Linked DNA regions of Homo sapiens: region 1 is linked to region 2. The links come from fine-mapping of genetic effects on gene expression. A gene starts in region 2. The other region holds a variant in brackets. All regions are shown on one strand. Distances are from middle to middle. Region 1 overlaps NUBP1 (NUBP iron-sulfur cluster assembly factor 1, cytosolic). Region 2 holds the start of NUBP1 (NUBP iron-sulfur cluster assembly factor 1, cytosolic).

Evidence for each region.
Region 1: its variant is fine-mapped to the expression of NUBP1 in whole blood (TOPMed, PIP 0.99).

What each region holds. Positions count from the first base shown.
Region 1 is chr16:10,761,755-10,772,310 of GRCh38, forward strand. It overlaps NUBP1 (NUBP iron-sulfur cluster assembly factor 1, cytosolic), which reads left to right. Exons shown (of 11, transcript NM_002484.4): 9 at 3-105; 10 at 6,195-6,278; 11 at 7,293-7,597. The coding sequence ends at 7,351. TVP23A (trans-golgi network vesicle protein 23 homolog A) reads right to left here. Exons shown (of 8, transcript NM_001079512.4): 6 at 9,916-10,044; 7 at 8,518-8,577; 8 at 4,921-7,347. The coding sequence ends at 8,518. Among named protein-coding and RNA genes, the nearest start is that of NUBP1, 23 kb to the left of the region's middle. The variant G/A (reference allele first, on the strand shown) is at 4,089.
Region 2 is chr16:10,738,718-10,749,273 of GRCh38, forward strand. It overlaps NUBP1 (NUBP iron-sulfur cluster assembly factor 1, cytosolic), which reads left to right and starts at 5,125. Exons shown (of 11, transcript NM_002484.4): 1 at 5,125-5,165; 2 at 5,244-5,348; 3 at 8,426-8,559. The coding sequence starts at 5,147. RefSeq lists an enhancer at 4,934-4,983.

The sequences.
Region 1 (10,556 bases), 23 kb after region 2:
AGAAAGAATCTCAGATATTCCCTCCCACAACCGGGGGCGCGGAGCTCATGTGCCAGGACTTGGAGGTCCCTCTCCTCGGCAGAGTGCCCCTGGATCCGCTCATAGGTGGGTGACCCCAGTGTGGGGCGGCACCTCACTCCTCGGTCAGCCCCACAGGCACGGGTCGGGCACAACAGGGGGCGGCTACAGAGAGGGGCAATGGAAGGAGGAGGGTCAATGGGGCGCTGGAGCCAGACCCACCCTCCAGCTGGCACCCCAAGAGGCCACCGGGAGAGAGGCCGAGACCCCTGCGGGCAGGTAGCGGGAGCAAGCAGGCCTCAGGCAGAGGGGTGAGGCCTGGAAGAATGGGGTAGAGGTTGGTGAGGGTGGTGGTGGCAGGGGACTGAGGAGGGCACCCGATAGAGGGGCGGCTCCAGGGGATGCACATGGCGTCCAGGTTACAGAGGAAGGCGGCCTGAGGTGAAAATCCCTTAGGAAGGGGCCGGGCCTCCTGTGCCCGGAGAAGCCAGCACGGCACAGATGAGGCCCCTTTGTCTCCAGCACCGGGACAGACCGGAACGCGGATCACTGGCCTGCGAGCAGGGGCCAAGTTCCCAAAAAATGCTCTTCTTAAGTACGTGGGTCTCCCAGGATCCCAAGAGATGCCCACTCCCTGAGTGGCCCTGAGGCTGAAGGAGGGACGGGGTTTCACGTCTCCACCCACACGCCCGCCGGGCGCCCACTCGCCGCGGGGCGCTGGGCAGGGCCTACACTCGAAGCTGCTCCCCCAGGAGGCTGCTGTCCCCCAGGACCGCGGAGCCGGGCGGGCCTCCGTTACTGGGGCCCTTTAGTGGGGCTCCTGCGGGGCGTCCAGCACTCGCCTTTAGGTCTGAGGGGAGAACAGAGAGAGAAGGCTGGAGGGGAGGCCGGGATCCAGGAGTGCCGGCTGCACCCATGCCTCGGAACTTCCACTCCATTTGTCAGGGAACCAAGGCCAGTGTGAGGTGTCTGTGCCGGGACAGGAGAGAGGGGCCGGGCGGGTGAAGTATGGCCTGGCCAGGAGAGGGTGGGGGCCGCGTGCTTGGGGAGAGGGCGGGGCCCGTGGAGAGCCTGGAGGCGGGGAGGGCGGAGGCCACGTGGGGAGCCTTGGGGAAGGGCTGCATGGGGAGAATGGGAGCCTGTGGGAAACGACTGTCAGTGTCATGTGCCTGGGAACAGGAGGCTCAGGAGTGGCTGCCCTGGGATAGGGGTTCAGGATGAGGCCCTGGGTTCTGGCGTTGGTGTAGAAAGGAAGGGACACACACAAGAGAGAAAGTGACGGCATCTGAGGGTCAAGGTTGTCCCTGCTGCCAGTACAAGTCACCTGGAGGAGGGTCCGTCCCTCAGAGACAGTGAAGCAGGGGTGGTAGAGGGAGGCCGGGCCCTCTGGGGTGCTGCGGCTAAGGGGCTCGGGGGCTCAGGTTGTCAGCAGGTTCTGGGGTCCGTCAGGAGAAGGTGGTTCATGTCCGTGCAGTTGAGTTTTGAAGCCACAGGACATGGACAGGATTGCCAAGGGGCCGTGCAGAAAGCGGGAGCCAGGAGGACAGTGTTGGGGGATGGCTGCCTCGAGGAAGTGGTAGGGGGGTAGGGTGCGAGGGCCACTCTGAAGATGGGAACAGCCCGGGAGAACGCCAGAGACCCCATGTGCCCAGGAGGCTGTGTCCCCAAATCCTTTTTCCCTTATTCCCACATCCCACAATACTTCTCTGGCATGTGATTTCCCCAACAACATGCAGAAAAGTACAGCTGCTTTCTCAACCTTCCCCAGCATCATAAAACACTCACCAGGCAGCTTTTGCAGTGGCCGGAAGTGGTGATGAGAGCTGCCCTCTGAGGCCCCTGGAGGCAGTTGGGCTGCATGAATGGATGTGATTGGGGACAGGAGCTTGCAGCAGCCCAGGGCACATCCATTCCTGCCAGCCTGCACCTCTGCCACAGTTCAGCTCTGCCGAGATGGGATTGGTGGGCAGGACGTTTGTCAGGGGAAACATCTGTGGGAGAAAATGACAAGGGAGAGCGTTAGCCCACGATGAAGGAGTGGGGGAAGGAACATATCAGCCCGAAAGAGCATCACGGCCCATAGGAGTATCTCAGCCCCTGGAAGCATCTCAGCCCAAGGGAGCATCCCAGCCCTCAAGAGCATCTCAGCCCATGGGAGCATCCCAGCCCAAGGGAGTATCTCAGCCCACAGGAGTATCTCAGGCCACGGGAGCATCCCAACTCAAAGGAGCATCTCAGCCCACAGGAGTACCTCAGCCCATGGGAGCATCCCAGCCCAAAGGAGCATCTCAGCCCACTGGAGCATCCCAGCCCAAGGGAGTATCTCAGCCCACAGGAGTATCTCAGCCCACGGGAGCATCCCAACTCAAAGGAGCATCTCAGCCCACAGGAGTATCTCAGCCCACGGGAGCATCCCAGCCCGAAGGAGCGTCTCAGCCCACTGGAGCATCTCAGCCCATGGGAGCATCTTAGCCTGCTGGAGCACCTCAGTGTACTTTGCTTTTTGGCATCTCAGTCTGCTGGAGTATTTGTCTATTGGAGCATCTCAGTCTGCTGGAGTGTGGCAGTCTATTGGAGCATCTCAGTCTGCTGGAGTATGCCAGTCTGTTGGAGCATCTCAGTCTGCTGGAGTATTTGTCTATTGGAGAATCTCAGTCTGCTGGAGTATGCCAGTGTGTTGGAGCATCTCAGTCTGCTGGAGTATGTCAGTCTATTGGAGCATCTCAGTCTGCTGGAGTATTTGTCTATTGGAGCATCTCATTCTGCTGGAGTATTTGTCTATTGGAGCATCTCAGTCTGCTGGAGTATGTCAGTCTATTGGAGCATCTCAGTCTGCTGGAGTATGTCAGTCTATTGGAGCATCTCAGTCTGCTGGAGTATGTCAGTCTATTGGAGCATCTCAGTCTGCTGGAGTAGGTCTATTGGAGCATCTCAGTCTGCTGGAGTATGTCAGTCTGTTGGAGCATCTCAGTCTGCTGGAGTATGTCAGTCTGTTGGAGCATCTCAGTCTGCTGGAGTATGTCAGTCTGTTGGAGCATCTCAGTCTGCTGGAGTATGTCAGTCTGTTGGAGCATCTGTCTGCTGGAGTATGTCAGTCTGTTGGAGCATCTCAGTCTGCTGGAGTATGTCAGTCTGTTGGAGCATCTGTCTGCTGGAGTGTCTTGGCTGCTGTCGAGGAAAGCTGGGCACAGCCACCAGGGCATTCCTGAGCCCACTTACCCATCAGAGGGGCTGCATCTCCCAGAAGCGTGCCTGCCCGAGTGCCATGCTCGTCTCAGTCACTAGCTAGGAGCAGCCTGGGAGTGGCATTGCCTCAACACAAACGTGGTGGTGGATTTTGGAGCATGGCAGCTGCTGCCAGAGATCCAAGAGGTGTGTCCTTATGGCCATCACAATTGCCACATTTTCCAAGGTTTAATGAAGAGCTAGAAATCTATATCCTTACCCAAAGTCTCCTGATACTAAATGATAGCAACTAACTCCATTAAATACACACACACACACACACACAACCATGCTCTAGCCTGGGTAACACAGGAAGATACCTCATCTCTTAAAAAAAAAAAAAAAAAAAAAAGGAAAAAATTCACCCAGTGTGGTGGCATGTGCCTGTGGTCCCAGCTACTCAGGAGGCTGAGTTAGCAGGATCACTTGAGCCCAGGGAGGTTGAGGTTGCAGTGAGCCATGATCACACCACTGCACTCCAGCCTGGGCGACAGAGCAAGAACCTGTCTCAAAAAAAAATTTAAAAATGGCATGCTTGCTGACCCACCCAAATATGTCCACGGGCCCAGCCACAGGCCTGCCCTTGCCATTGTCTGACAGATCAGGAAGTGACCTTGGGGCTATTAGATCCTGATACGGCTTTTCTTCCAAAGAGCCAGCAACCTCCATCTTCCCACCTCCCTCACACCAAGCCCTGGCATTGGCCCTGGTCTTTCCTTTCAGGGCCACTTTTCACAAAGAAACAAAGTTCCAGGTGGTTCACAAGAGCTAATTTCAAAGCAGAGGAGCCACCAGTGACAGCTGCGAGGCTCATTCTGAGCTGAGAACATTAAGTGCCTTCTAGT[G/A]GGCATGGTCCTGTGTGTCAAATGGCACATTGCAGAAGCTCACCTTGAGGGGAAGCCACAGATAGCAAGGCCAGGGAGTGCCAGAAAGGAAGGGGTGGTTAACACTGTCACCCACCCAAGAGGGTGGAGCATGAGGGCCAAGTGACAGACACGCATCTGGCAAGGTCACTGGGGACAGAGTGGGGGAAAACCCACCTTCCTAGGAACAGACAGGAAGGCATGAGGACAGCACTTCAGTCTCCTCTGGGGACATGGTGGCAAAGAGTTACAGATGCCAGCGCTCTGGTGCTATGGGTCCTGGTCCCGGTGTGCTGAGGATCACAGGAAGGGCTGGCCTCAGAGCCCTGCTCCGCCACCACTAGCTGTGGGACTTGGGCTAGTCATTTCCGCTCTCAGCCTCGATGGCCCCGTGTGTAAAATGCAGGTGACAGTGGTGCCTAGTGAGAGGGATCTGCCAGGGTGGGGTGAGAGGATGCCTGGGATCTCTTGGAACAGGGCTGTGCTCACACCAGCTGTTCTGATAATGCTGCCCGTTCTTGGAGAGGTGGGAGCCCAGGGGGAAATGCAGTTAGGAAGGGAAAACACTAGAGCATATATGTGTGTTGGGGGCTGGGGAGCCCTCTGGGGAAGGGAGACCTGGGTGAAAGTCAGGGACAGAAAGTAGCCCCAGCATGACTATTCTGGGATCCCCAACCTCCCAGGTCTGGCCCAGCGAACGTGCACTCAGGGGCCTCCCTAGCGAGTTCCACATGGTCTCATGGGCCCAGCGTTAACGGCGGAGGATGTCCAGGTTCTTGGTGTCTGGAACAAAAAATTGGACAAAACGCACAAAGAAAGGAAGGAAGGAAGGGATTTATTGAAAATGAAAGTCAACTCCACGGTGTGGGAGGAGAACGGGCCTGAGAATAGGGGCTCAAAGGCCCCATTACAGAGTTTTTGTGTTTAAATACCCTCTACTTGAGGTACGCCCTATATAAACGAAAAGGATGAAGTAAAGTTACAAAGTCATTTACGGCATACGTCCTATGGAGAGGACATTTCCTGTTATGGCTCAAGTGCGAATTGGCCTTATGTTCCCTGCCTCTGGACCCTATTTTCCTGACTCACTGGGCCATATGGGCTCCCCATCTCCCACCAACCCCTCCCCACAGGCTTCTTCCCCGACTTGGACTTCCCTGTCCCACAGGGCGACACAGTAGTGAAGTTGAGGAAATGATGAGTGCTAGGTAGGAACCCCTCCTGGGGTTCACCTGAGGCTGGTGACCGGCCATGGGCAGTGCAGTCACTTGCCTGTTTCGCCAGCAGCTCAGGCCTGGGGAGTGGGCAGAGCAAGCTGATGGCAGGTCCACCCACGACTGGGGGCTGGCAGGGCAGACTGGAGGCGAGAACACCCCCATTGACCCCTAGCCCCTTGTGTCCTGTCCACCTGGCTCTGGGATAACATGGTCCTAGAGAAACCTGGGTGTGCATAGGAGGGGACTGGAACAATGGCCACATGGCGGGGAAAGACTAGCAGACTGATAGACACCAGCACAGATGACCTGGAAGATAAAATTATACACAGACAAAGCAGCAGGCAGAATGTGTGTGTCATGTGCTCCCATTCGTATTTTAGGTATATGAGAGTGTGTGTATGTGTGTGCGCACACATGCAAGTGTGCACATTTATATGCGCATAATCTTTCTGGAAAGACACCTAGAACACTAGTAGCCCTTTTCGGACTTGGCCTTTTATGCCATATCCTTTTGCATTCTGTACTTTTTTTAACCATGTGCATTCATGATCCTTTCACTCAAAAGCTAATCTCTTAAAATGCAGACTCCTGGGCCCATGTGGAAGCTGCTGAATCAGTTCTCTGTAGGGCCCTGGAACCTGCATTTTCTGTACACCACCTGATTATTTAGCCACGCTGAAATGCTGGCTGGGGACCCTGCTGGAAGGAAGGTCCCTGAGACCCCACTGGTCTTTTCTACTTTGTTCTTCATTACGAGTGAAGCGGGCTCAAGATCTTCCCATTGTCACCAGCACGGAAAGAGCCCCAAGATCTTGTGGCCATTCTGTTTTCCTCTTGGACTGAATTGTCTTCCGTTTGTTTCTTTTTTAAGGTAAGAATTGTGACAAAGGCCAGTCTTTTTTCATTGACGCCCCAGATTCCCCAGCCACGTTAGCCTACAGAAGTATAATTCAGAGTAAGTATTTCCATGAGTACTAAATGCAGATGCCTGTGGGGCAGGAAGCAACATAAAGGAGCCAGGGGTGTGGAAGGACAGGTGGGTGGTGGGGTCTGTGATGACCACAGAGTGGCCCCCATAGCCGAGGAAGCCAGGAGTCCATGAGAAATCTCTCAATGTGTGAGTATTGTGAATTAATTCATAGTTTAAAAAACATGGTGAGGGTGAAATTTATGGCTTAGGAAATACATCCCAATAAAGGGATAAAGTAATTCATTTTTAAAAGTAACTGATAAAAAAAAAAAAGGCCAGGTGCAGTGGCTCACACCTGGAATCCCAGCACTTTGGGTGAAGGAGGCAGGCAGATCACTTGAGGCTGGTCAGGAGTTCAAGACCAGCCTGGCTAACATGGAGAAACACTGTCTCTACTAAAAATATGAAAATTAGCCGGGTGTGGTGGCGCATGCCTGTAGTCCCAGCTACTCAGGAGGCTGAGGCAGGAGAATCGCTTGAACCTGGGAGGCGGAGGCTGCAGTAAGGCGAGATCGCGCCACTGCACTCCAGCCTGGGCAACAGCGTGAGACCGTGTCTCAAAAAAATAAAAAATAAAAATAAAAACTTTGTTGAGCCAGACCAAACCCACGTGCAGGCCACATTCAGCCAGTGGCAGCCATCAGAGGCCCCAGAGTTAGGGCAGAGGTGTCAGTGTTTGTTAAAGCTGTGGTCTCTGAGTTTGTGGCTGGGTTTTACTTGCCTAGAAGAATGATGTCAAGGGTAAGGAAACAGCATTCCCAGAATCCTCCATCTATAGATGGTCCGAGGAAGGCCGCAGCCACTGGTTATGAGCAAGATGGGTAGTGTGAGGTATTCCGGTCACTTTCAAAGACTCAGGGCATCACAGACACAGGTCTTTTTATGGAACTAGCCAGAGGATTCCACCCCTGTCAAAACACAGCCCTCCCCAGCACAGGACAGGGCTGTCAAGGGGTAGACAAGCCATTAGCACTCTATGCCTGTCGTCTTGTTTTCCAGGAATCCAAGAGTTTTGTAATCTCCATCAGTCAAAAGAAGAGAACCTCATCAGTTCCTGAAACGAGAGAATGTTCAGGACCAAGCAGTTACCGAGCGAGGCACTCACTGGGCAGCACATCCAGCCAGACCCGACCAGCTCCGGGATGGGGTGGGTCACAGCAAAAGGACCAGATGCTGGTGTGGTCCGAAGCCACTTTCTCAGAGACACTTTAATCATTGAGTATTTGTACACTTTTCTTTAGAACATATATAAAGGGCATTCTCTACAAATGTGCCGTTTTAAGAATAAAACCCCCTCAAATCTCTCCCCCGAGGCCTGTTTCACGTAAAAAACAAATGGGTTGTGGGATCGTGGGATTCTGCTGTGTCGGAAGCTTAGTCGATTGTAGAAACTCCCGTTTAAGCCATTTCTGCCTGTGAAGATAAGAAAGCCTAGAAAAGAACCAAAGGGGTGAGTGTGCGGCTTCACTGCAGAACACACAGGCTTGTTTTCAAACACCACAGTCCAAACGCTTTTCTTCAGATTGAGGAAAAATCTAAAAGCAACAGAGCTCAGGCTGGGCTTCGTTCTAAAATCACTGCATATGACACAGCTGGGTCAAATCAAAAAGCCCTTGAAGAGTCCTTGAATCACCCAGTAAGACAGAATGTGGGGTCTGTGTAAATTCCCTGTGTAGTAATATGTGCACAGTATATCCAGTAATGTCCAGTGTCATGCAAACCAACTTTCAGGTTTTTTAATTATATAAAAAAGAGGGACAGATGTAAACTCTACGATCATCCTCTTTGCCATGAGGTGCTTGCTCTGTTTGAGACACACAGGATCTGAGACCACGTGGGAGAAGAGTAAATTCCTGTTTTCCCTCCACTCTGGGGCATAAAAGTGGGTGGGTGGGAAACAAGAACAAATCCCCTTGTTCTTTCCCTCCCTTGTCTCTTCCCTCCCCGCCCTTCCCTAGGACCATACATATGATCAGATTTGCACATGTTCAGTGTGAGGAAGGTGTGACCTCGCCCCCCGACCCCCAGCTCCTCACGCCAAGAGCAATGAGGCTGCAAAGCCCAGGGCAGGCCCATTGCCCAGTCTGCTTCCTGCCTGGTCACATGCCTGGCCACCCCAGGGAACAGGGGAAGCCCACCCAGACCCCGGGCCCCTGTGCCCCAAGAGCTGCATTTTTCAGAATTCCCCAGTTCCTCCACACGGGTGCCATGATCCATTTCTCACCTAATGCTGGTGAATCTCCAGCCCCTCGAGGCCAGGCTTCTGAAAGTCACCTGGGCAGGCCTGCAAGGGGAAAAGTCAACCATGGTTTTCTGTCCTTACACGCGAGTGGGGCGATCCTGCTGATGGAAGGCCAGAGAAAACCCACAAAGTACAGAAAACCTGCGGAATTGGTTGCTTGATGTCTTGGCATAAAGCAGTGCTGTTCAAATTTAGGACGGTTCTACCCATTTCAGGATGAACCTGGTCAAATTTCAAAGACTTCTGTCTCTCACTTTTAGAAATATCTATTAAGTTAAAAAAAAAAAACAAAACAAAAACAAGCTGGGCACGGTAGCTCCCGCCTGTAATCCTAGCACTTTGGGAGGCCAAGGCTGGTAGATCACTTGAGGCAAGGAGTTCGAGACCAGCCTGGTCAACATGGAGAGACCCCGTCTACTATAAATACAAAAATTAGCCAGGCATGGTGTTATGCACCTGTAATCCCAGCTACTTGGGAGGCTGAGGCAGGAGAATCACTTGAACCCGGAGCCGGAGGTTGCAGTGAGCCAACACATGCCATTGCACTCCAGCCTGGGAGCAGAGTGAGACTCCCATCTCAAAAAAAAAAAAAAAAAAAAAAAAAAAATTGAAAAACCGTTTGTGACTCTTTCCTTAATTCTATACTTTTAAAAATCACTGAAAACTAACAATGGCAGTCACAAAAGGACAAAAACTATAATTGCACTTATAGGAGGTCCCTAGGGCTGTCAAACCAATAGATACAGAAAGCAGAATGCTGGTTGCTAGGGCTAGGAGGCGAGGAGGAGGGGGAGTTAGTGTTTTGTGGGTACTGAGCTTAAGTTTTGCAAGATGAAAGCAGTTCTGGAGCTGGGTGGGGTGAAGGTTGCACAATAAAGTGGTTATACTTAATGCCACAGAACTATACATTTTAAAATGGTTACAATGGTACATTTTATGTAAATCTTACAATTAAAAAACAAAACTGCCAGGCACAGTGGCTCACTCATGGCTGTAATCCCAGCACTTTGGGAGGCCAAGGCAGGCGGGCTGCTTGAGCTCAGGAGTTCTAGAGCAGCCTGGGCAACATGGCAAAACTTCGTCTCTACAAAAAAAAAAGGCCAGGCATGGTGGTACACACCTGTAGTCCCAACTGTGCCAGAGGCTGAGGTGGGAGGATCGCTTGAGCCCAAGAGATGGAGGTTGCAATAGGCCGCGATCACACCATTGCACTCTAGCCTGGGTGACAGAGCGAGATCCTGTCTCCCAAAAAATATATAAACAATAAAACATTGGCAGCCTGGCGGATATGTTACATTACAAACCGCAGTTGCCAGCAGGCCACCTTGACTTTGACTACCTGGAGAGGAGTGGTCCAAGAGTCAGACCTCAGTTACTCACCGTCTGGAACACTGTCTGGGACAGGAAACTGGCTGTGACCTTGCCAATGTCACTGTTGCCTCCCATCTTACAAAGGATGTAGCCATACAGGTTTGCAGCTTGGAGAGAGATCCCAGCAACCACCAGAGCCTGCACTCAGACAAAGAAAGCAAAGGTCACTTTTTTTTGAGACAGAGTTTCGCTCTGTCGCCCAGGCTGGGGTGCAGAGGCACGATCTCAGCTCACTGCAAGTTCCGCCTCCCGGGTTCACACCATTCTCCTGCCTCAGCCTCCCGAGTAGCTGGGACTACAGGCGTCCGCCACCAGGCCTGGCTAATTTTTTTGTATTTTTAGTAGAGACACTGTTTCACCATGTTAGCCAGGATGGTCTCCATCTGACGCAAAGGTCACTTTCTAAGAGCATTTACAGAAATGCACCTCTCAAGCCACGTAGAAATGCTCTAGCCTGCACCTAAGAATAGTAACAGCCAACATTTACTGAGCATTTGCAAATACCCACGGACACCTCAGAATCATTACAACTGGAGAGGTTGCCACCATCATCATCCCATTTTACAAAGAGGAAACTGAGGCTCAGGAAGACGAAAGCTGCCCAAGGTCACAGAGCTGGAGCGTGGTCGAGCCGGGATCCAAATTCCAGG
Region 2 (10,556 bases):
GACCATGTGACTTTTTTTTTTTTTTGCGACAGAGTTTTGCTCTTGTTGCCCAGGCTGGAGTGCAGTGGTGTGATTTCGGGTCACTGCAACCTCTGCCTCCCAGGTTCAAGCAATTCTCTTGCCTCAGCCTCCCAAGTAGCTGGGATTACAGGCATGCGCCTCTGTACCTGGCTAATTTTTGGTATTTTTAGTAGAGACGGAGTTTCACACTATTAGTCATGCTGGTCTTGAACTCCTGACCTCTAGTGATCCAACCGCCTCGGCCTCCCAAAGTGCTGGGTTACAGGCATGAGTCATCACGCCCAACCTTTTTTTTTTTTTTCTGAGACAGAGTCTCATTCTGTCACTCAGGCTGGAGTGCAGTGGCACAATCTTGGCTCACTGCAACCTCTGCCTCCCGGGTTCATGCAATTCTCCTGCCTCAGCCTCCTGAGTAGCTGGGATTATAGGCGCACACCACCACACCCAGCTAATTTTTTGTGTATTTTTAGTAGAGACAGGGTTTCGCTATGTTGGCCAGACTGGTCTTGAACACCTGACCTGGTGATCCACCCGCCTCGGCCTCCCAAAGTGCTGGGATTACAGGCGTGAGCCATCGCGCCTGGCCTTTTTTTTTTTTTTTTTTTTTTTTTTAGACAAGGTGTCACTCTGCTGCCCAGGCTGGAGGGCAGTACTGTGATAACAGCTCATTGCAGCCTCCAACTCCAGCAATCGTCCTGCCTCGGCCTCCCAAGTAGCTGGGACTACAGGCATGCACCACCTTGCCCAGTTAATTTTTAAATTTTTTGTAGAGACAGGGTCTCACTATGCTGTTCTCCAACTCCTGGCCTCAAGCAATCCTCCTGCCTTGGCCTCCTAAAATGCTGGGATTACAGGTGTGAGCCACTGCACCTGACGTGTGTGACTAATTGTAGCCAATGAAAAGTGGGCAGATAGGTGTCATTTCTAGTGGAAGCATTTCAGAATCAGGGTACAATTCCCCTGGCTTGTGTCCTCTGTGTTCAAAAGGGGCCACAGGAGACGGTGGAGCTTCAGTCTGTGTCCCTGAGGAACCACAGGGAGCAGGAACCTCTGTCCATGAAGTTACATATGGAGCAAATGCCAAAATAAACTTGATTGCCTTGAGCCACTTCAGTTTGGGGATGTCTGTTTTGGCAGCGCAGACTAGCCTATCCTGGCTGAAACAGACACTGTTGCAGGACCAGGAGGAGGAGGGGGCCTGAGCTGAGGCAGGAGGGATGCTGGAAGGCATGGAGTGTCAGTTGTCTATAGCTACCCCAAACTCAACAGTGTCAAACCACCAGCATTTAGCTAGTTCACCAGCCTGTGCATTGGCCAGGTGGTTCTTCAGGACTCACGCATCTATGGCCAGTTGTGGGTCTGGATGGGTGGATCTGTGGGTCTGGATGTGTGGATCGGTGGGTCTGGATGGGTGGATCTGTGTGTCTGGATGTGTGGATCGGTGGGTCTGGATGGGTGGATCTGTGGGTCTGGATGGGTGGATCAGTGGGTCTGGATGGGTGGATCTGTGGGTCTGGGTGGGTGGATCTGTGGGTCTGGATGGGTGGATCTGTGGGTCTGGGTGGGTGGATCTGCAGCTCTTGGCTGGACTCTTCTCATGTGTCTTGGGCCGCTGGTTTAGGAGGCCTTCACTGAGAGCACAGGGGTGGCTCAGCTCAGTTCCAGGTGTTTCACCTCCCATGGGCGAGCCCAGACCTTCTCCTAGCCTGTGTACCTTTAAGTGGCAGGGGAGCTGGAGAGGGATTAAAACAGGCAAAAGCCCCATTACAAGCTTTTTCTTGAATCACATTTGCTAAAGTAAGTCACATGCCTGAGCACAGAGTCAAGGGGTAGGATGGAACCCCCTCCCCGCACGTGGGAGGGCACTGCAAAGTTCAGCAGCCAAGGGCACAGATCCAGACAGGGAGAGAAGTGGGGTCATGTGTGCTACCAGCCTACCACCTAGGGGTGCAGCTGCTGACCTGATGTCTGATTGGATGCAGGGGGTGCTGTGGGCGTCTCTATGGACAACACTGACCCCCATCCCTGTATAGGTACGCCACCCCACTAATCAACAAGAGGAGTCTGTGTCTGTGACACTTTGACCGAGAGAACATGGTGAAAGTGACTGCCACTTCCCAGCTTTGTCATTCCCAGCTGCCATTTAAAGGGACACAGGCTAGACCACTGAAAAATGAGAGAGGGAGGCCACGAGGGGGGAATCAAGGCCAGTGTGAGAGTGAAGCCATTTGAGACCTTCCAGCCAACTCCCAGCTGAATGAAGCCACATTAAGGGAGCCCAGGTGAAACCAGAAGAGTCACAGGAAGCAATAAACCATGGTGGGTTTAAACCACTACATATTGGGGTGACTTGTCACACAGCACTTGATCACTGATGGAGATGGAGAAAACTAAACAAGGCTGATACTCAGATTTACGGCTTGAGTTCTTAGCCCAGGGGTCATGCCCTGTCCAGGTATAACAAATCCAGAGGCAGGAACCGCCTTGAGAAGAAGTTGTAGACGTTTATTTGTTACGCTTGTGGGATGTCCATGCAATAAAATCCAATAGGCACAAGGTAGGATCCACAGATCCGAACTCACGGAGCAAGAGGTGTGGGAGCTGGAGACAGAAGATGGATAGCATCAGGGCTGTCAGTTGCTTGCCCAGGAGGAAGTGGGAAGTGGGACTGGAAGTGGCCCAAGAACAGAGTCTTGGGGAGCACTCACCTTAAGAAGCGGCCCTGGCCAGGCGCGGTGGCTCACACCTGTAATCCTAGCACTTTGGTAGGCTGAGGCGGGTGGATCACCTGAGGTCAGGAGTTCGAGACCAGCCAGGCCTACATGGTAAAACCCCGTCTCTACCAAAAATACAAAAAATTAGCCAGGCGTGGTGGTGGGCACCTGTAGTCCCAGCTACTCAGGAGGCTGACACAGGAGAATTGCTTGAACCCGGGAGGTGGAGGTTGCAGTAAGCCAAGATCACACCACTGCACTCCAGCATGAGCAACAGAGTGAGATTCCATCCCACAAAAATAAAAATAAAAAGGAGAATAACTTGCATCCTGCCCTCTAATATACAGTATAGTGATTAATAGCAAAGGCCCTGTATCAGACTTGGTTAAAAACCCAGTTCTGCTCTTTCTGCCTCTCAGACTGTGGACAAGTAAATCTTTGCAGCCATCTTATCACCTGTAAAACGGAAATGACAACAGTCCCTACCTGATAGGTGACTTCCTCTCTGCTCTCCAGGCCTTTGCTGATGCCCCATCACTCTGGTCCTCTTCTCCCGACCAGACTGTGCTCCAGATGGCAGGGTCCAGGTTAGTCTGGAATCATTGGCATCTAGCCCAGTGCTGGCTGGGACCATGTGTTACTAAGTGCAGGCTCTGCAGCCAGACAGACCAAGTTTATCACCCTGGTTCCCCTGCTACCAGTCATGCGACCTCGGGAAAGTAGTTTACTTTAAGCCTCAGTTTCCTTATCCAAAAATGGAGACAGTAGGACTATGAAAGGACATAAATTAGGTAATTCACATGAAAGCACAAAGATGACAGCTGCCAAACGGTAAGTATTCTACAAAATGCTGGCTATAATTAGTGGTAGTGACAGGCAGCTGATACACTGCTGTTTAATAAATGTTTCCGAGGCCGGGTGCGGTGGCTCATGCCTGTAATCCCAACACTTTGGGAGGCCAAGGCGGGCAGATCACGAGGTCAGGAGATCGAGACCATTCTGGCTAACATGGTGAAACCCTGTCTCTACTAAAAATACAAAAAATTAGCCGGGCGTGGTGGCCTGTAGTCTCAGCTACTCGGGTGGCTGAGGCAGGAGAATGACGTGAACCCAGAAGGCGGAGCTTGCAGTGAGCCGAGATCCCACCACTGCACTCCAGCCTGGGTGACAGAGCGAGAATCCGCCTCAAAAATAAATAAATAAATAAACGTTTCCATATTCTTAGTGTCTGGGGCTAGGTAAAGTTTGTTCACTCATTAATATTCCAGGTGCCAAACCTGTGAGCAATGACACTCCAGTAGCAATGAGCATTTGTGGCATCCACATCTTGGTTTCTGAACTGTTGTCTGCTAAAAAGTAACCAAGGCTCCCTGAAGAAATGACTGCAGCAGGGAGAAGGGATGACTGAAACATCTTGTATCAGAAAGCAAGAAAATGCTCAAAGAAGCTGGATTAGTGCCCAAAGAACATAAGAACTGTCTTGAAGGGGCTTCACTGGCCACATCTGGGGGAAAAAAAATCGACCAGAAAGAATAATAATTGATTATAAAAGACAATTTTAAAAAATCCAGGAATCCATAGTGAGTCTTCGAAAAAAAAGAAAAAAAGAGAGGGTATAAAACTGATATATATTTATCATATATATAATCTATAGTTTTATATATATATATATAAATGCTGCTAAAATCACTGAGTGAAAGGCTGATAGAGAAGAAGATGGTCCCAGAGAGTACCTGTTAATTACAAATGGAAGAAGGAAACATTAAATGGAGAAATGGGGCAGACACCACCTTTAGCAAGCGATCAAGCTTCACATTACCAAAAACGGGACAAACTGACATTATCCAAGTGTGTTCTGCAGGAAAAAAGAAAAATTAACCTTTATCTAATTACAAGGCAAGAGGGAGGGGAGGATTAGACAAATCAAGAATATGGGATATTCTATTACACAACTGGTCTGGACCCGTCAAAATTATCAAGGTGATGAGACCCCCCCTAAAAAAAGAAGGACTGATCTGAATTAAAGGAGACCGAAGAGAAATAACTCCAGGCAGTGAGTGAATCCAGCAGGGGAGGGGGTCTAACAACTGAAATTGAAATATAAACTGTCTATTGGCTAATACTGCATTGGCTAGTACTGCATCGATATTAAATCTCTTGGGTATGAAAATGGCACTGATGTCATGAAGAATGGCTTTGTTCTTAGGAGATGCACTGCAGAAGTATTTATGATAGGAAATCTCTGAAAAGGAACAGACGTTGAGTCCCAGTCTTTCGGCCCAAGGTTCGCGCGTGCGCACAGCCCCCTTTCCGAGACTTATTTCGCGCGGTCGGAGAATCAGATTGTGCCCACAAGGCGGAAATGTACGACAGCGGGTTCCGGTGACCACGAAGGCGGCAAAGGCGACGGAATGGAGGAGGTGCCTCACGGTAAGCTCGCGGAGGGGGCGTGGGTCGCGGGGCGAAAGTGTCGGGAGCTGCTCTAACTGTGGTCTTGTCTCTGCGCAGACTGTCCAGGGGCCGACAGCGCCCAGGCGGGCAGAGGGGCTTCATGTCAGGGATGCCCCAACCAGCGGCTGTGCGCTTCTGGAGCGGGGGCCACTCCGGACACGGGTGAGAAAAGGGCAAGGCCTCAACAGGAACTTAGAGGCGCAGGCCCGGAAAAGGCGGGGCGTGGGAGGGAGGGGGCGGGATCTGCAGAATGACTGACAGCGGCAGGCTAGAAGGTATTGTATTCGGAGAGGGGTGGGGCCCAGAAGGGGCGGGGCGTGGAAAGTGGGCAGGGTGAGGGCGGAGCTTGGAATGACTGACAGGAACGAGGCCTTTAGAAGGCGAGCGCGAAGGACCTGGCGCGGATGGAGGGTGGAGACTGACCGGCGCGGAGTCGAAAGGGACATTAATTAAGAGGGTCGGGGCCAGAGGTTTGAGTGACAATAACAGACCGCAGAGAAAAACGGGATAAGCTTCGAAGTCGGGGAGTCTTCGGACTTACATCCTGGCTCTGCCAGCTACTTTCTTGACACAATTTTCTTCCTTTTGAGGAGTGATTCTCCCACTCATTCAGCAGAAATGTGTTGATCGCCTCGTAGGTTTGGTGCTGTCCTGGGGACACAGCTGGGGATCAGGCGTGGTCACTGCTCTAGTGGAGTTTAGCTTTACTGGGGAAACAAACACGTGAGCTAGCAACTAAACCACCGCAGCTTTAAGTGCTGTGAAGCACAGATTCCAGGATGAGAGGACCCAGGGAGCCTGCTCAGAAGGACCTTAAAAAGCAGGAGGCAGGAGGACAATATTTTTTTTTCTTTTTTTTCCCCCTTTTTTTTTAGACAGAGTCTTGCTGTGTAGCCCAGACCAGAGTGCAGTGGTGTGATCTCGGCTCACTGCAACTTTCACCTCTCAGGTTCAAGCGATTCTCGTGCCTCAGTCTCCCGAGTACCTGGGACTACAGGCGCCTGCCACCACGGCTGGCTAATTTTTATATTTTTAGTAGAACCAGAGTTTCACCATGTTGACCAGGTTGGTCTCGAACTCCTGACCTCAAGTGATGCATCTGCCTGGGCCTCCCAAAGTGCTGGGATTACAGGCATGAGCCACTGCACCTGGCCAAGGGGGAGAATCTTGAAGGAGTTCAGAGAGAGACTTGGATTTGATTCTTGGATCCATGCGGTGTGACCTTCAGCAATAGTCCTAACCTCTCTGAGCTTCTGGTTCCTCATCAAAAATGGAGACAGGCCGGGTGCAGTGGCTCACGCCTGTAATCCCAGCACTTTGGGAGGCCGAGGCGGGTGGATGGATCACTTGAGGTCAGGAGTTCGAGACCAGCCTGGCCAACATGGTGAAACCTGTCTCTACTAAAAATACAAAAATTAGCCAGCATGGTGGTGCATGCCCGCCCTCGAGGCTGAGGTGGGAGGATCACTTGAACCCGGGAGGTGGAGGTTGCAGTGAGCTGAGATCGTGCCACTGCACTCCAGCCTGGGTGACAGAGTGAGACCCTGTCTCAAAGAAAAAAAAAAATGAAGAGAAAAATAGTTATCTCTGTCAATGCAATGGAGAGACTGAACTGAGCCTCAGTGGAGGTTTATTGGGCCAGAGCTTGAGGGCGTGCCCTGGAAAATACAAGTGACAGAAACATCTGTGGCCTGTGCTCGATGGAGTGGTTCCAGAAGGCTGGTGTTTATATATTTCATTAAAAGGGGAAAAAGCATGCAGGAAAAAGTGCAGTAGGCCTCGTGGCAGGTAGTTACATTCTTGTGAGGTTTTAATTCGTGCCCAGTATATCTACACTATTCAGAAAATAAAGTAAACATTCAAAAGAGGGAATAAAGGAAGAATTAATTAGGCAGACGTCTCAGGGTAGGAGAGGAAGGACTATCTCATCCCATCTTTGTTTGGCATGTGGGAGGATAAGCTTGTAATGGACATGGTCAGTGTGGCGTTTAACAGACATCAGTAATAGGGAAGGAGTTAGACTGAGGTTACAGTCCTAAAGTTACAGTTGGCATGTCCTTGTTTATGGGAGGATACTCATCTTCAAAGATTTAGGGGCCAGCAAAGGAGTTCCTTAGGAGCAACTTGTGAGGGCAGTCATCCCACAATGGATTGCATGGGGCCTTTGGCCTTTTGCAGGTGTCTGGTTAATGTAGAATGCTTTGACACAAGGTTGGGAAGTAACAGCTGTCTGTTGATGGGGAGGAGGACAGCAGTGTTGGGAGGTTTCCAGGCTTAACTTTCACTTGAGTTTGGCCAGTCATGAGACTTTTTAATTTCCTTTATACCTCGTGTATTGTTTTAAGGATTTGAAATAAGATAGTTTCATTGGCAGATACTTAGTATGTGCCTGCTGTCTATCAGAGTTTCTCAACCTCAGCACTGCTGACATTTGGGGCAGGATCACTCTTTGTTGTGGGGGGCTGTCCTGTGCATTGTAGGACATTTAGCACAATCTGGGCTGTACCCATTAAATGCCAGCAGTACCTCTCCTGTGACAATGAAAAGTGTCTCCAGGCTGAGCATGGTGGCTCACACCTGTAATTCCAACACTTTGGGAGGCCAAGGTGGGTGGATCACTTGAGGTTGGAAGTTCGAGACTAGCCTGGCCAACATAGAGAAACACCGTCTCTATTAAAAATACAAAAATTAGCCAGGCATGGTGGCAGGCACCTGTAATCCCAGCTACTTGGGAGGCTAAGGCAGGAGAATCGCTTGAACCCAGGAGGCAGTGTTGCAGTGAGCCGAGATCACGCCACTGCACTCCATCCTGGGCGACAGAGCAACACTCTGTCTCAAAAAAAAAAGAAAGAAAGAACAGTGTCTCCAGACATTACCAAATGTCTCTGGGGGATTTTGTCCCCAAGTTGGTGACCATTGCTGTTTGCAAAGTTCTCTTCTGGAGCTGGGAATACAGCACTGAAAGCTTCAGACAGTTCCTACCTTTGTGGAGACTATGTTCTAGTTGGGGGAGACAAACGTGTAAACCAATAAATGAGACCCCTTCAAGTGTGATAATAGCCTTATTTTCTTCCTAGCACTTATTTCTACCATTGTCTGAGAGGTATTTCAGAGGATCGTTTTAAACAGCCCCAGGACTAGTACTAGGACTAGGACTTAGCTCTTTCTAGTTGACTGGAAGCGTGACATTCGAGGTTTGGTGTGGGACCTCATCCCCTGAACTTTGGTTTTCTTTGCAGCTATAGAGGAAATCAAAGAGAAAATGAAGACTGTAAAACACAAAATCTTGGTATTGTCTGGGAAAGGCGGTGTTGGGAAAAGCACATTCAGCGCCCACCTTGCCCATGGCCTAGCAGAGGATGAAAACACACAGGTGAGACCTCAGGAACCACTGGGAGATGCTCATTTTGTCTGAGGGTCGTGATGGCTACTAAATAACTGATTCCTAGGCCAGGCGCAGTGGTTCATGCCTGTAATCCCAGCACTTTGGGAGGCCAAGGCGGGCAGATCACTTGAGGCCAGGAGTTTGAGATCAGCCTGGCCAACATGGCAAAACCTTGTCTCTACTAAAAATACAAAATATTAGCTGGGCGTGGTAGCGCAGGCTTGTAATCCCAGCTTTTCGCGAGGATGAGCCATGAGAATCGCTTGAGCCCAGGAGGCAGAGGTTGCAGTGAGTCAAGATTGTACCAGTGTACTCCAGCCTGGGTGGCAGAATGAGACTGTCCAAGAAGAAAAAAAAATGATTCCTTATACTAAGTTGAATTGGCCTCTTTGGAATCTCAATCCGGCAGAGAGCAAAGAAATGCCCAGTAGTCAAATGAAGCATTTCACTGGATTCCCTAGCCAAGAAAATGGCTAGCAGATGTACATCTGTCCTTGCATGTGGATAGTTTATTACATTACGTTCACGCTTCTTTTTCCTCTTTATTAACCCCTTTTAGCTTTTCTCTAAGCCAGGGACCTGCAAACTATAGCCAGTGGGCCAAATCCAGCCCATCTCCTGCCTTATGGCCTTTGAACTAAGAATGTTCACATTTTTGAAATGTTTTTTGTTTGTTTGAGACAGGATCTCACTCTGTCACCCAGGCTGAAGTGCATTGCTATGATCAGGACTCATTGCAACCTCTACTTCCTGGGCTCATCAAGCTATCCTCCCACCTCAGCCTCTCAAGTACCTGGGACTACAGGTGCTTGCCACCATGCCCGGCTAATTTTTGGGTTTTTTGTAGAGATGAGGTTTTGCCATGTTGCCCAGGCTAGTCTTGAACTTCTGAACTCAAGGCGTCCCCCTGCCTCGGCCTCCCAAAGTGCTGAGATTATAGGCATGAGCCACCGTGCCTGGCCTAAAATTGCAATTTTTAAATTAGTACCTAAGTACCTACATATGATCCTTGATTTTGCCCACAAAGCCTAATAATATATTTGCTGTTGGCCCTTGTGGAAAATTTTTGCTGGCCCTTACACGAGTTTATTCATTTCCACCCATGCATACAGACGAGCATGAAAACTCAGATTACCCACTGCTGCCCTCTGGATCTCAACTTTAATAAAAGGGGTTGGTGGGTCGCTAAGAGCACACACTCTGGAGTCAGACAGCCCAAACTCAGGTCCCAGCTCCATCTACACCACTGCTGTGACCTTGGGCAAGTTACCAGGCTTACTCTGCCTCCGTTTTCTCATCTATAAAATGGGACTCCAAGGACTGAGTGAGATGGCACAGTAAAGCACTTAGCACGGGGCCCGACGAATAGTCAATGCTCAGTAAAGGTCTGTGATGGCCACCATTTTTATTACTTTATTTCACTCTCTGGATATGAAGGGATGATGATTACATCTGCCTTAGAGATGAGTTTGTAGCCTACCCAAGGTATAGTACTGGGCAGATTCAAAATACACTTGTTGGGCAGGGCATGGTGGCTTACACTGTAATCACAGCACTTTGGGAGGCTGAGGCAGGCGGATCACTTGAGGTCAGGAGTTTGAGACCAGCCTGGCCAACATGGTGAAACCCTGTCTCCACTAAAAAATACAAAAATTAGCTGGGCATGGTGGTACGTGCCTGTAGTCTTAGCTACTCGGGAGGCCGAGGCATGAGAATCGTTTGAACCCAGGAGGCGGAGGTCGCGGTGGGCCAAGATTGCCCTACTGCACTCCAGCCTGGGTGACAGACAAGACTCCATTTAAAAAAAAAAAAGGATATAGATAGATACACAGACACATACACACACACACACACACACACACACACACACACACACACACACGTTGATTCGTCATTCTGTGAGTCAGCGATCTCTTGCCATTTGAGGGTCAAATCTGTACTGGCCTAGTGGGCTGGCCAAGAAATCTGCTTTCTCAGATTGTCTG